Linked DNA regions of Homo sapiens: region 2 is linked to region 1. Evidence: fine-mapped expression QTL. A gene starts in region 1. The other region holds a variant in brackets. All regions are shown on one strand. Distances are between the middles of the regions.

The links. PIP is the estimated chance that this variant, and not a neighbour inherited with it, causes the effect.
Region 2: its variant is the best candidate, but not a certain one, in a credible set for the expression of C17orf67 in lymphoblastoid cells (GTEx, PIP 0.53).

What each region holds. Positions count from the first base shown.
Region 1 is chr17:56,831,612-56,836,986 of GRCh38, forward strand. C17orf67 (chromosome 17 open reading frame 67) reads right to left here and starts at 2,309. Exons shown (of 8, transcript NM_001085430.4): 1 at 2,007-2,309; 2 at 1,287-1,731. DGKE (diacylglycerol kinase epsilon) reads left to right here and starts at 2,540. Exons shown (of 12, transcript NM_003647.3): 1 at 2,540-2,649; 2 at 3,167-3,648. The coding sequence starts at 3,185. It overlaps LOC124904036 (a long non-coding RNA gene), which reads right to left. Exons shown (of 3, transcript XR_007065857.1): 3 at 4,749-5,375. RefSeq lists silencers at 1,537-1,831, 1,805-2,874 and enhancers at 2,199-2,796, 3,265-3,664, 3,396-3,993.
Region 2 is chr17:56,795,416-56,800,790 of GRCh38, forward strand. The region is part of intron 6 of C17orf67 (chromosome 17 open reading frame 67); the gene reads right to left. Among named protein-coding and RNA genes, the nearest start is that of C17orf67, 36 kb to the right of the region's middle. The variant T/C (reference allele first, on the strand shown) is at 2,048.

The DNA.
Region 1 (5,375 bases):
TGCTAGTGACCAGAACCCTCCTCAGGTCTCCCAGTAGCCACAATACCACAAAAAGCCTCAAGAGTGACCTCCCCAAGTCTGTTCCCATTAGGGGACTTGAGTTGTGCAGAATCCGTATAAGACAGCCTCCACCAAACACGTGTCTATGCAGGTCCACGTGCCATGTACATACGTACGACTGATGAAGATCCCCTCCTTGACCAAGCTCTAGCCAGGCTTCCCTGAGCCCCCTTTTCAACTAGGCCTCCACCTTGGCCTATGAAATCTGCAGACTTCAGCAAAAAGGATCGGGTCCATCCTTCCCCCTATATCAAAACGCTTAAACACACAGTTTCTTTTTCTTTCTTTTTTTTTGAGACGGAGTTTCGCTCTGTCGCCCCGGCTGGAATACATTGGTGCGATCTCAGCTCACTGCAACCTCCGCCTCCTGGGTTAAGCAATTCTCTGCCTCAAGCCTCCCAAGTAGCTGGGACTACAGGCACTCACCACGATGCCCAGCTAATTTTTTGTATTTTTAGTAGAGACGGGGTTTCACCATCTTGACCAGGCTGATCTTGAATTCCTGACCCCGTGATGCACCTGCCTCGGCCTCCCAAAGTGTTGGGGTTACAGGCGTGAGCCACAGCGCCCGGCCTAAACACATAGTTTTTAACTGCTCAAAGCTGCATCCATAGGATGACCCCAGACCCCCTAAAGTATCTTCCTGGGAAAGCTGCCAAAAGAACTCACTGTTGGCTATTGCCAACACCTTACAAGCAGCCCCTGATGTCCCTTTCTTAAAGAGTTAACAACAACAACAAAAAACTAAACAATTGTGAATCCTTCCTCTGTCTCTCTGGGATGTAATGTCTCCTACACATCAGGAGTATCCTTCTCAAGAACCTGAAAGCCATTCCTCCAACATGCAATCACCAGGAAGCAAAGGGCCTATCTCCCAGTTACTGTGGGAGGATAGGACCCTGACTCCCATAACAGCCATCTAACAGGCACTGTCGCCTAACCTTACTTACACTGACCCACCCTTCACAAGTTTCACTTTCCTGACTACTGAGTTCCTGCTCATCCCCTTCACATTCCCTCCTCCTCCCTCTTAAACACCTAGTCACTTCTGCACAAAGTTCAGTTCCGTTCACGAGGTACCTTCTTCCCTATTACAATAGTATATTATTAAAATCTGCTTTACCACTTTTACTAGTGTCTAGCTTTATCTTCTACAGTTAATACAAATATACGCACATACACATGCATATATATGCACACATAATAATATATACATACACACATACACGTATATATACATCTATATGTGTATTCTTAATGAATGTTATGTCTTCTCTAATCGTTTGGAAGATATTATCAAGTATTTCTTTGCAGTTTTCCTATGATCTCTGCGTTTCTTTTCTGTTCCTTTGGTCCCTTGCTTCGGTGTGTGTTTTCTTTCCATCTTTTATGCTAGAGGAAGTCCGCAAGCAACAAGTGGTCCTCGGCTCCCACTCCTATGTATGTATGTAGTAGGAAGGAAGCCGCTGAGTGCAGCTGTGCGCGCCGGGGCGGTGCCTGTGCCTCTCTGGATTCCGTGTTTCTTCGGGGGTGCTGAGCAGCGGTGCTTCCGCGTCCGCGTTCTCCGGGTAGCTGATGTGCTGCAGGCTGCAGCCCGCGTGGTCGCGGCTCAGGTCCGTGTTGGGCTGGTAGGACTCCAGCGGGGAGCGAGCATTCCTCCGGAACCTGGGGCTGGACGACAGCAGCAGGAGGCGTGCTCCCATCTCCGGTAGTCCCCGGCTCCCGCTGCTCCCCTTTCTCCCCGGCCTCGGGCGCTGGCGGGCGCGGGCGAGGGGGTAGCGCAGGGGAGGCCCGCCCGCCACGGCAGGGGGCGGAAACCGCGGCCGGGCTCGGGGTCAGCGGCGACGAGCGGGCGGCTGCCCCGCTCGCCCTCGGCCTCCGCGCCCGCCCGCCGCTCCGCAGCGGAGGAGCCCTCAGGTTTGCGTTACTGCGGCCGCCACACCTACCTCAGCCCGCCGCGGCCAGGTCGGGCGGTGCCGCGCAGGCCGCCTCCCCCCCTCGCTTCCCAGTCGGCTTACGCATCCCCGGCGGCGGCGGCGCCGGCATCGGCTAGAGGTTCGGCTCAAGTCGGGGGCACTCGTGTCTGCGCCGAGCGGCGGGCGTGAGCGCGGCCCCTGGGCCCCGCGCGGCGCGGTGCTGCGAGGAGGATCCTCGTGGCCTTGCCCCGCCGGCGGCTTTCCAGAATTTTCTACGATTACGAAGTTTTGGCATTCAACCCTCCATCCTCTCAAACGCCCCACTGTTACTCCGCCCCCTTCCCCTAGGCCCCGCCCCCAGCCGCAGTGCCCTGCCTCTTCCATCCGTCTCCAGCCTCCTCCACGGCCCCGCCCCCTCAGGCCGGTCCGTCTCCCCTCCCACCTCACACCTCCGCCCCGCCCGTCAGCCCTGGCTCCGCCCAGCCACGGGGCTCGCCGCCACAGGCCCCGCCTCCAGCTCGCGGCCCCGCGCGCCGGATCGGCGTGCGTGCGGCTGGAGCCTTAAGCGTTTCCCCCGCCCGGCTTCATCCCTGCTGGCGGCCCAGCGTCGTTCTCCTCCTGCGCGAGGCGGCCAAGGCCTGCTGGCCCGGAGCCGCGCCTCCACCCGCGCGAGGTAGGGCTTCGAGGACCGGCGCGGCGCAGGTCTCCGGAGGCCTCCCGAGAGGGGCTAGGGTCGCCGGGCCGCGCGTGGGAGCGGGTGGGGCCCGGGAGGAGACGGCGCCCCGGAGGGGAGTGCGAGGCCTGGGCCGACGGTTACGGGCGCCGACCGGCGTTGCCTGGCCTGAACGCCCGGCCTTTCGGTGGAGGGCAGCTTGCCCCTGTATGTTGCGCCCTTCCGTGGGTCAGACCGGCGGCAAGGTGAGGCGGCGGCGGCAGCAGCAGCCGCCTTGGGCTCCTGGACGCGCTCCCGAGGTGGGGCGGGTTGGGGAGTGGGGATTGGAGCGTGATGGCTGGACGTCGCCTTCTCGGCGCGGCAGGTCCCGGGAGACGGGGGGACGAGGCGCAGTCCCGCCCTCGGGAGAGCGGAGCCACCTTCACTGAGGGCGCCCGGTTTGGCCCCGGAAAGGCAGGAAGGGGGCGGGGAAGGGATGGCGAGCTCGGGGTGCACCGCCTGTTTCTTTTCTGGTTAGGTATCGTCCTTGGAGAAGATGGAAGCGGAGAGGCGGCCGGCGCCGGGCTCGCCCTCCGAGGGCCTGTTTGCGGACGGGCACCTGATCTTGTGGACGCTGTGCTCGGTCCTGCTGCCGGTGTTCATCACCTTCTGGTGTAGCCTCCAGCGGTCGCGCCGGCAGCTGCACCGCAGGGACATCTTCCGCAAGAGCAAGCACGGGTGGCGCGACACGGACCTGTTCAGCCAGCCCACCTACTGCTGCGTGTGCGCGCAGCACATTCTGCAGGGCGCCTTCTGCGACTGCTGCGGGCTCCGCGTGGACGAGGGCTGCCTCAGGAAGGCCGACAAGCGCTTCCAGTGCAAGGAGATTATGCTCAAGAATGACACCAAGGTCCTGGACGCCATGCCCCACCACTGGATCCGGGGCAACGTGCCCCTGTGCAGTTACTGTATGGTTTGCAAGCAGCAGTGTGGCTGTCAACCCAAGCTTTGCGATTACAGGTATGGTCTTCGTGGACACTCACTGTCCCAGAATGCGCCGTGGGAATCAGGATTTCATAGAGTGGTGTAGAGGCCTGCTTTAATCTCTGCTGATGACCTAAACTCATTTTGAGGAAACAAGCTAATAAATAAACATCCCTGAGTTTGTGCAAGCGTGGCAGCTTTGCAGTAGTCATTTGCTGAGACGATGCATCCAGCCTCCACTCCTCAGCCAGCCTGCCCTTTTGGGTAATAAAACTTGGCTCCTAACGTTAATACAGAGGTTTCTAAGTGGTGCCTGCTTCATGGCCACTGTATATTTTAGCTTTTGTTCCTATCGATTATCTCCTTATTTTAAATAAGGAAAAATGAAATATGGACAAATTAACTTTTCCCTTCAGCCGCAAAACTGATGGGTCACAGGTTTTGTACTATGAATGTGCAGTGAAAACAAGTGTCATTCCAAGGCAGCACTTTTATGTCTTTTGCTAATATAGCTGTTGGTACCATAGCGAAATATACTCAAAAAGAACACTGAAAGGAATATTCCTTTTGACGCTTGGTCTTTCAGGACATGTAGAATCTTAGATAAGTGACCTTGATTAAGCCAAGAATATTTTAATGTCTTTTATATACACACTGGACAACACATTTTTGTCCTTAAATATTGTTTGAAAATAGGTGAAGATGTCCTTTGCTGATGTTGGAAATTGGTAAAGGAGAATGCTGCTTTGCAAATGATCTATTCTAACTCAGTTCACAGTTGAGAAAATTAAAGCCCGTTAGGTCCACTCTGGTAAAATAGGACTGGCCTCCAGGATTTCCAGCTCTGGACTAACACTTAGCCTCCTTTGAGCCTTAAGTCTGGACATCTTCATTGTAATGGGTTTTATTTCTGACAAGTAGAAAGGCGCATAAACATGCTTAAGAAATGAAATAGGCAGTAAATAGGAAGCTGCTTTTTAATTTTTTTAATTTTTTTTGCAGAAATTCTTTCATTAGCATGAACGCTATTATAATGTCAATACCTGTTTTTAAGTCTTATTTTAAATAATTTTACACATTATCAAAGAGGCTTAAGAATAAATGTTCAAAATAATGTATTCTAGACAACTACAAAGTTTTGTAACCATGCATTTTTATTTGGTATCTTTAAAAATTAAATGCTGTCCTTCTGGCATCAGTGAGAGCCAAGTTAGCAGGGACTTTAAATAAATTTCATAATGAATTGAGTATTGTTCTATTTCCTTCCCTTCTCTGGTGTAGCCTCCAGCAGTCTGTGTCTGTGCAGAATTATATTAAAAATGGTTTCCATAAATAACCGTATTTCAAATACTCTTGAACACATAATCATGCTTCTGATCCTCCACCCAAATGATCTTTCTAAAAATGCAAATCTGATCAAGTCCCTGCTCTGCTTAAAATCCTTTAAATTGCTCCCCATCGGGTAAGCTGACTGTTTTACAGTGTAAACCCCTAAGTGCTTTTTCACAGGGTACATAAGGTCCTAGTACTTTCTGGCCTCTGTCCTTTTAGTTTTATCTACCACCACCTGCATTAAACTTTATGCACCAGCAACACTAAGCTTCTTGTAATTTCCTTAAAACGTCAGGCATTTTCTGACATTTCTGCCCCTTTGCTCAAAGCTTTCCTCTCAGTATTCTTCTGGCTAGCTTCTAGGCACCCTTAAAGACCCATCCCATGTCCTTGTCCTTTCCTTCAGGAACTCTTACCTGATCTACTCAGCT
Region 2 (5,375 bases), 36 kb before region 1:
AAACATGGGACAACAACTTCAGAAAACATCTGATTGCCTGCAATCTAGAAATTTCACTCCTACTTTATACCCTAGCGCAGTGGACGTCAAACTTTATCAGATATCAGAGTCACCTGATATCTGATATTACAACACAGATTGCTGGGCCTATCTTACAGTTTCTGACTCAGTGGGTCTTGGGTGGGACTTGAGAAGTTGCATTTCTAACAAGTTCCTAGCTAATAGTTATATTGCTAGTTGCTCTGAGAACAAAAGAAACTCTTATATCAGGAAAGGCATATAAAAATGTTTATAGCAGCAATAAATTTGTCATAGCAAAACACTGGAAACATGCCAAATAGCCACTTACAGGAGAATGAATCAATAAATTATGTTAGGGTTATGCCATGGACTATTATACAGCAGAGAACATAAATTATACTGTAGCTATATACAACAACATAGATGGGTCTTAGAAATAGCATACTGAGTGAAAAGTCCAAGTAACTACATTTATAGTGTGACACTATTTTTATAAAGTTCAAATATGTGTAACTAAATCATGTAATATATTACTTATGGCTATATGCATTTCTGATAAAATCATCTTTTTTAAAAGACAAGGGATAAGCAGAAGAAAGCTAGGGTTGCTATGCTAATATCAAACAAAAAGACTTTAAAATATAAAAATGTTACTAGAAATAGAGAAGCATTTTGTAAAAATAGTCTGGCAGTTCCTTACAATATTAAACCTAGAATTACCATTCGTACTCCTGGCTAGCAACTGTACTTGTAGGTATATACCCAAGAGAAACAAAAATGGATGTCCACACAAAAACTTGTATACAGATGTTCACACCAACATCATTTGTCACAGCCAAAAACCAGAAGCAACCCAAATGTCCACCAATAAATGAGTGGATAAATAAAATATGCTACTTCCATATAATGGAATATTATTTGGCAATTAAAATGAATGAAGCAGTGATCCCTGCTACAACATGGATGAACCTTGAGAACATTATGCTAAGTGACAGAAGCCACTTAGGACACTTATGTCACAAAGGACCACACGGTGTATGATTCTGTTCATATGAAAGGTGGCCAGCCCCATACATTAATCTGTCCACAACAGAAAGCAGCTCCTTGCCCTGACCAGTCCTGCCCCTTACTGTGGCCAGCATCTCCATCTACTCAGGAACCCGCTCCAGAACACCAACTGTCATTGCCTCACTCACCCTCAAACTCAACATAAGACTGAGCATCGGGACGTTGAGGCTATCTCCGGAATAGTTCTCAGATGCCCTCCCTCGTCTCTGCCACTTCCCTAGGTCAGGTCTTCACCATTGTCCACCAAGGCTGCCGCAGACTCCTCACCCCTCTCTCTGTCCCACCCCTGCGTGTTGCATTCCTCCCACCCCATGCCTCCTCCCTCCCCCATCCCTGCTCCACTCTGACAGAGTGACCCAAAAGGGGTCAAAGGTGGCCCACCAGGGCCACCTTCCTCCTCGAAGCCTTCACCAGTGCTGTCTACCTGCAAGGAGTCAGCATCTGCCTCTACCCACGGGTTTTGTCTGTGGCTCTGGATAATGTACTTGCAAGCCAGCAGATGAGTGCAGCTTTGGGTAGGATTCCCCTCCTTCCCCCACTCCTCCCAACAGCAGGGAGTGGCCCTGCCCTCCCACCTTGGTCTACAATGGTCATTGACAGCCTTTGTTAATCTCTATGCTTCTCAAAAACGCAATTTCTCCCTGAAATGGTTGCCTGAAGAGACTTTAATGAAGGGAACATTCATAGCCATGTGAGTAGGGTTAAGGGAACTATCAAAGAATATTCTAGCACCCAGGGACTAGCAATAGAGGGAAGTCATGACCATGTCTAAGTTTGCAGGGCCAAGGGTGGAGAACCCTTAGAGGAGCCATTAGGCCTGGGGCCAGGTGGGTGGGGCTGCTGTGGTCTTGGGGGCACAGCACAACCTTTGCAAGGCAAGGAGGGAACAGGGAACAAACAGCCCATCCTCTCCCTCCTCTTCCCCTCAATATCCTGCAGGGCCCAATCAGAAGCCAGC[T/C]GGCCAGGGAACCAAGGGATTCAGTCTGCAGGAGTCAGTCTCCTTGAGCACAGAGTGGGGCACAGCAGGGTGGAGAACGGACTGGGGTCAGGGCAGAGAAAAACCGCGTCCATACCAGGATGATGAGGAGTGGCAGGTGTGCTACCACCAGAGAAGGGAGCAGACAGCACAAATAACAGAGGGCCATGATAGGGCCTCTCTGCAACCTGCAGCTCATCAGCCTCTGAACACACCCATCCTTTGCATGAAATTTTTGTCTTTGCATCTCCTCTCTCAGTTGGCTCGTGCTCTGCCCTTTATCAACAGGAATGTCACTTCCAGCCTTTAGGGCTGGCCTTCTCCTCCAAATGCGCCTTGGTCTTCCCCGAAGCCAGTTCAGGCTGTGAATTTTCTGTATATGGGTTACTCATGGCATTATGTCCTATAAGTGATGCATAAAACAGAAAAATGATAAAACAACAGGACCTCTCTTAAATAAAAGAATAAAATGTGATTTCTCTTGTCTTAGTCAGTTATAAGCTCTCCTCCTTCCCTCTCCATCTTCTAGTGCAATCTCTGGCCTACAGGTACTGCCTATCATACTGAAGGTGGTTCATCATATCTCTCTTCATGGCACCACATTGCTAGTTAAGCAAGAAGCTTCAGCGCACTCCTCTTCCTTGCCCTCCCACCATCTAAGCAGCCTAACTCCTGTGAATGCTCCTGAATCCCTTCTACCCAGCCCGACTGCCTCTGCCCAGCTTAGGCCCCAGCCCTGGGGCTAGACCCCTGCCACAACCTCTGCAGGCTCTTACTACCCCTTGTCCTACCTTCTTCTTCTTGTGGGGTTTTTTTTATTGTTTTATTTTGTTTTCTTAATAGGCATTATTGTTTACAGCAGTTTTAGGTTCACAGCAAAATTGAGCAGAAATATAGCATTCCCATATATCCCCTGTCTTCACACAGGCACAGCCTCCCCCACTACCAACATCCCCCACCAGCATGGGATATTTTTTACAGTTGATGCACCTGCATTGACACAGCACCATCACCAGTCCATAGTTGATATTAGGGCTCACTCTTGGTATTACACAAATGCATGGCAGTCGGGCATCATGGCTCACATCTGTAATCCCAGCAATTTGGGAGGCTGAGGTGGGCAGATCACTCAAGCTCTGGAGTTCGAGACCAGCCTGGGCGACGTGGTGAAACTCTGTCTCTACCAAAAATACAAAAAAAAAAATAGCTAGATGTGGTGGTGCATGCCTGTAGTCCCAGCTACTCAGGAAGCTGAGGTGAGAGGATCTCTTGAGCCCAGGAGGTAGAGGTTGCAGTGAGCTGAGATCGCACCATGGCACTCCAGCCCTCGGAGACAGTACGAGCCTTTGTCTCAAAAAAGATAAATAAACACAAATAAAAATAAAAGCATGGCACCAACATCTCCTTCTGATGAGGGCCTCAGGAAGTTTCCACTCATGGCAGAAGGTGAAGGGGAGCTGATATACACAGATCACATGGTGAGACAGGAGGCAAGAAAGAGAGAAGGTGCCAGGCTCTTTGCAGAAATCCGTTCTCATGGGAACTAAGAGTGAAAACTCCCTCATTACCGCTATTCATGAGGGATCCACCTCCATGACCCAAACACCTCCCATAAGGCCACACCTCCAACACTGGGGATCAAATTTCAACATGAGACTTGATGGGGCCGAACAAACCACACACAAACCCTAGCACTACCATTGCAATATCACACGGAACAGTTTCACTGCCCTAAAAATCTGCTTTGCTCTGCCTGCTCATCTGCCTAACCCCTGGCAACCACTGATCTTTATACTGTCTCTATAGTTTTGCCTTTCCCAGAATGTCATACAGTTAGAATCACAGAACATGTAATTGAATTTTCAGATTGGTTTCTTTTCTTTAGTAATATGCATTTAAGTTTAACTCCATGTCTTTCCGTGGCTTGATAGCTCATTTTGTTTTAGGGTTGAATAATATTCCATTGTCTGCATGTATCATAGTTTATTTATTCATTCACCTGGACATCTTGGTTGCTTCCAAATTGGAGTAATTATGAATAAAATTGCTATAAACATCTGGGGGCAGGTTTTGTGTGGATGTAAGTTTTCAACTCCTTTGGGTAAACACCAGGGAGTGTGATTATTGAATCGTATGTTAAGAGTACGTCTGGTTTTGTAAGAAACTGCCAAACTGTCTTCCAAAGTAGCTGCACCATTTTGCATTTCCACCAGCAATGAGTGAGAGTTCTGTTGCTTCACATCCTCACCAGCATTTGGTGTTGTCCATGTTCCAGATTTTGGCCATTCTAATAGGTGTATAGTGGCATCTCGTTGTTTTAAGTTGCATTTCCCTAATGATGTACGATGTTTCACATGCTTACTTGCCATCTGTATATCTTCTTCAGTAGATGTCTATTCAAGTCTTTTGTCAGAATGGGTTTTTAAAATATAAAGAACAAAAATAGCTTTACTGGTTTTTATTTTTATCACAACAGTGATACATATTACTTTCTTAAAGTCATGAAAAAAAAAAAGAAAGTTATAAAGAAGAGGTTGAAAAATCCCTCTTGATTTTTCTGTATCCTGTTGCAAACTAATTTTTTTTTTTTTTTTTTTTTTTTTGAGACGGAGTCTCGCTCTGTCGCCCAGGCTGGAGTGCAGTGGCGCCATCGCGGCTCACTGCAAGCTCCGCTTCCCGGGTTCACGCCATTCTCCTGCCTTAGCCTCCCGAGTAGCTGGAACTACAGGCACCCACCATCACACCCGGCTAATTTTTTGAATTTTTAGTAGAGACGGGGTTTCACCGTGTTAGCCAGGATGGTCTCAATCTCCTGACCTCGTGATCCACCCGCCTCAGCCTCCCAAAGTGCTGGGATTACAGGCGTGAGCCACTGCGCCCGGCAGCAAAGTGATATATTTTTTTAATTTACCCACGTTGCTTCTTCACTTAAAATGTCTGTATGCCTCCCACTGGTCTCAGGAGAAAGTTCTGATTCCTTAATATGGCTAAGGTCTTTCCATGACCCAGCTACACCCATCTCCTGAGCCTCTTCTCTCACCATCAATACACTTGAGCTTTGTTCTCCATCTTTCCCTGAACGGGCCATGCTTGCTGTTCTTTCTAAGGCTTCCAAAGCACCTGTTGTTTGCTCTGCCTAGAACACCCCTGTACCTTCTTATTTTCCCATCTCACTCTTACCTGACTTTTCAGGCCTCAGCTTAGATGTTACTTCCTCTAGGAAGCCTTCTCAGATTCCCTGTGACCCCACTTCTCTGGGTCTCCAAAGCTCCATAGACTTTTCCCAGCATAGCCCTCCCTGGTCATTCTG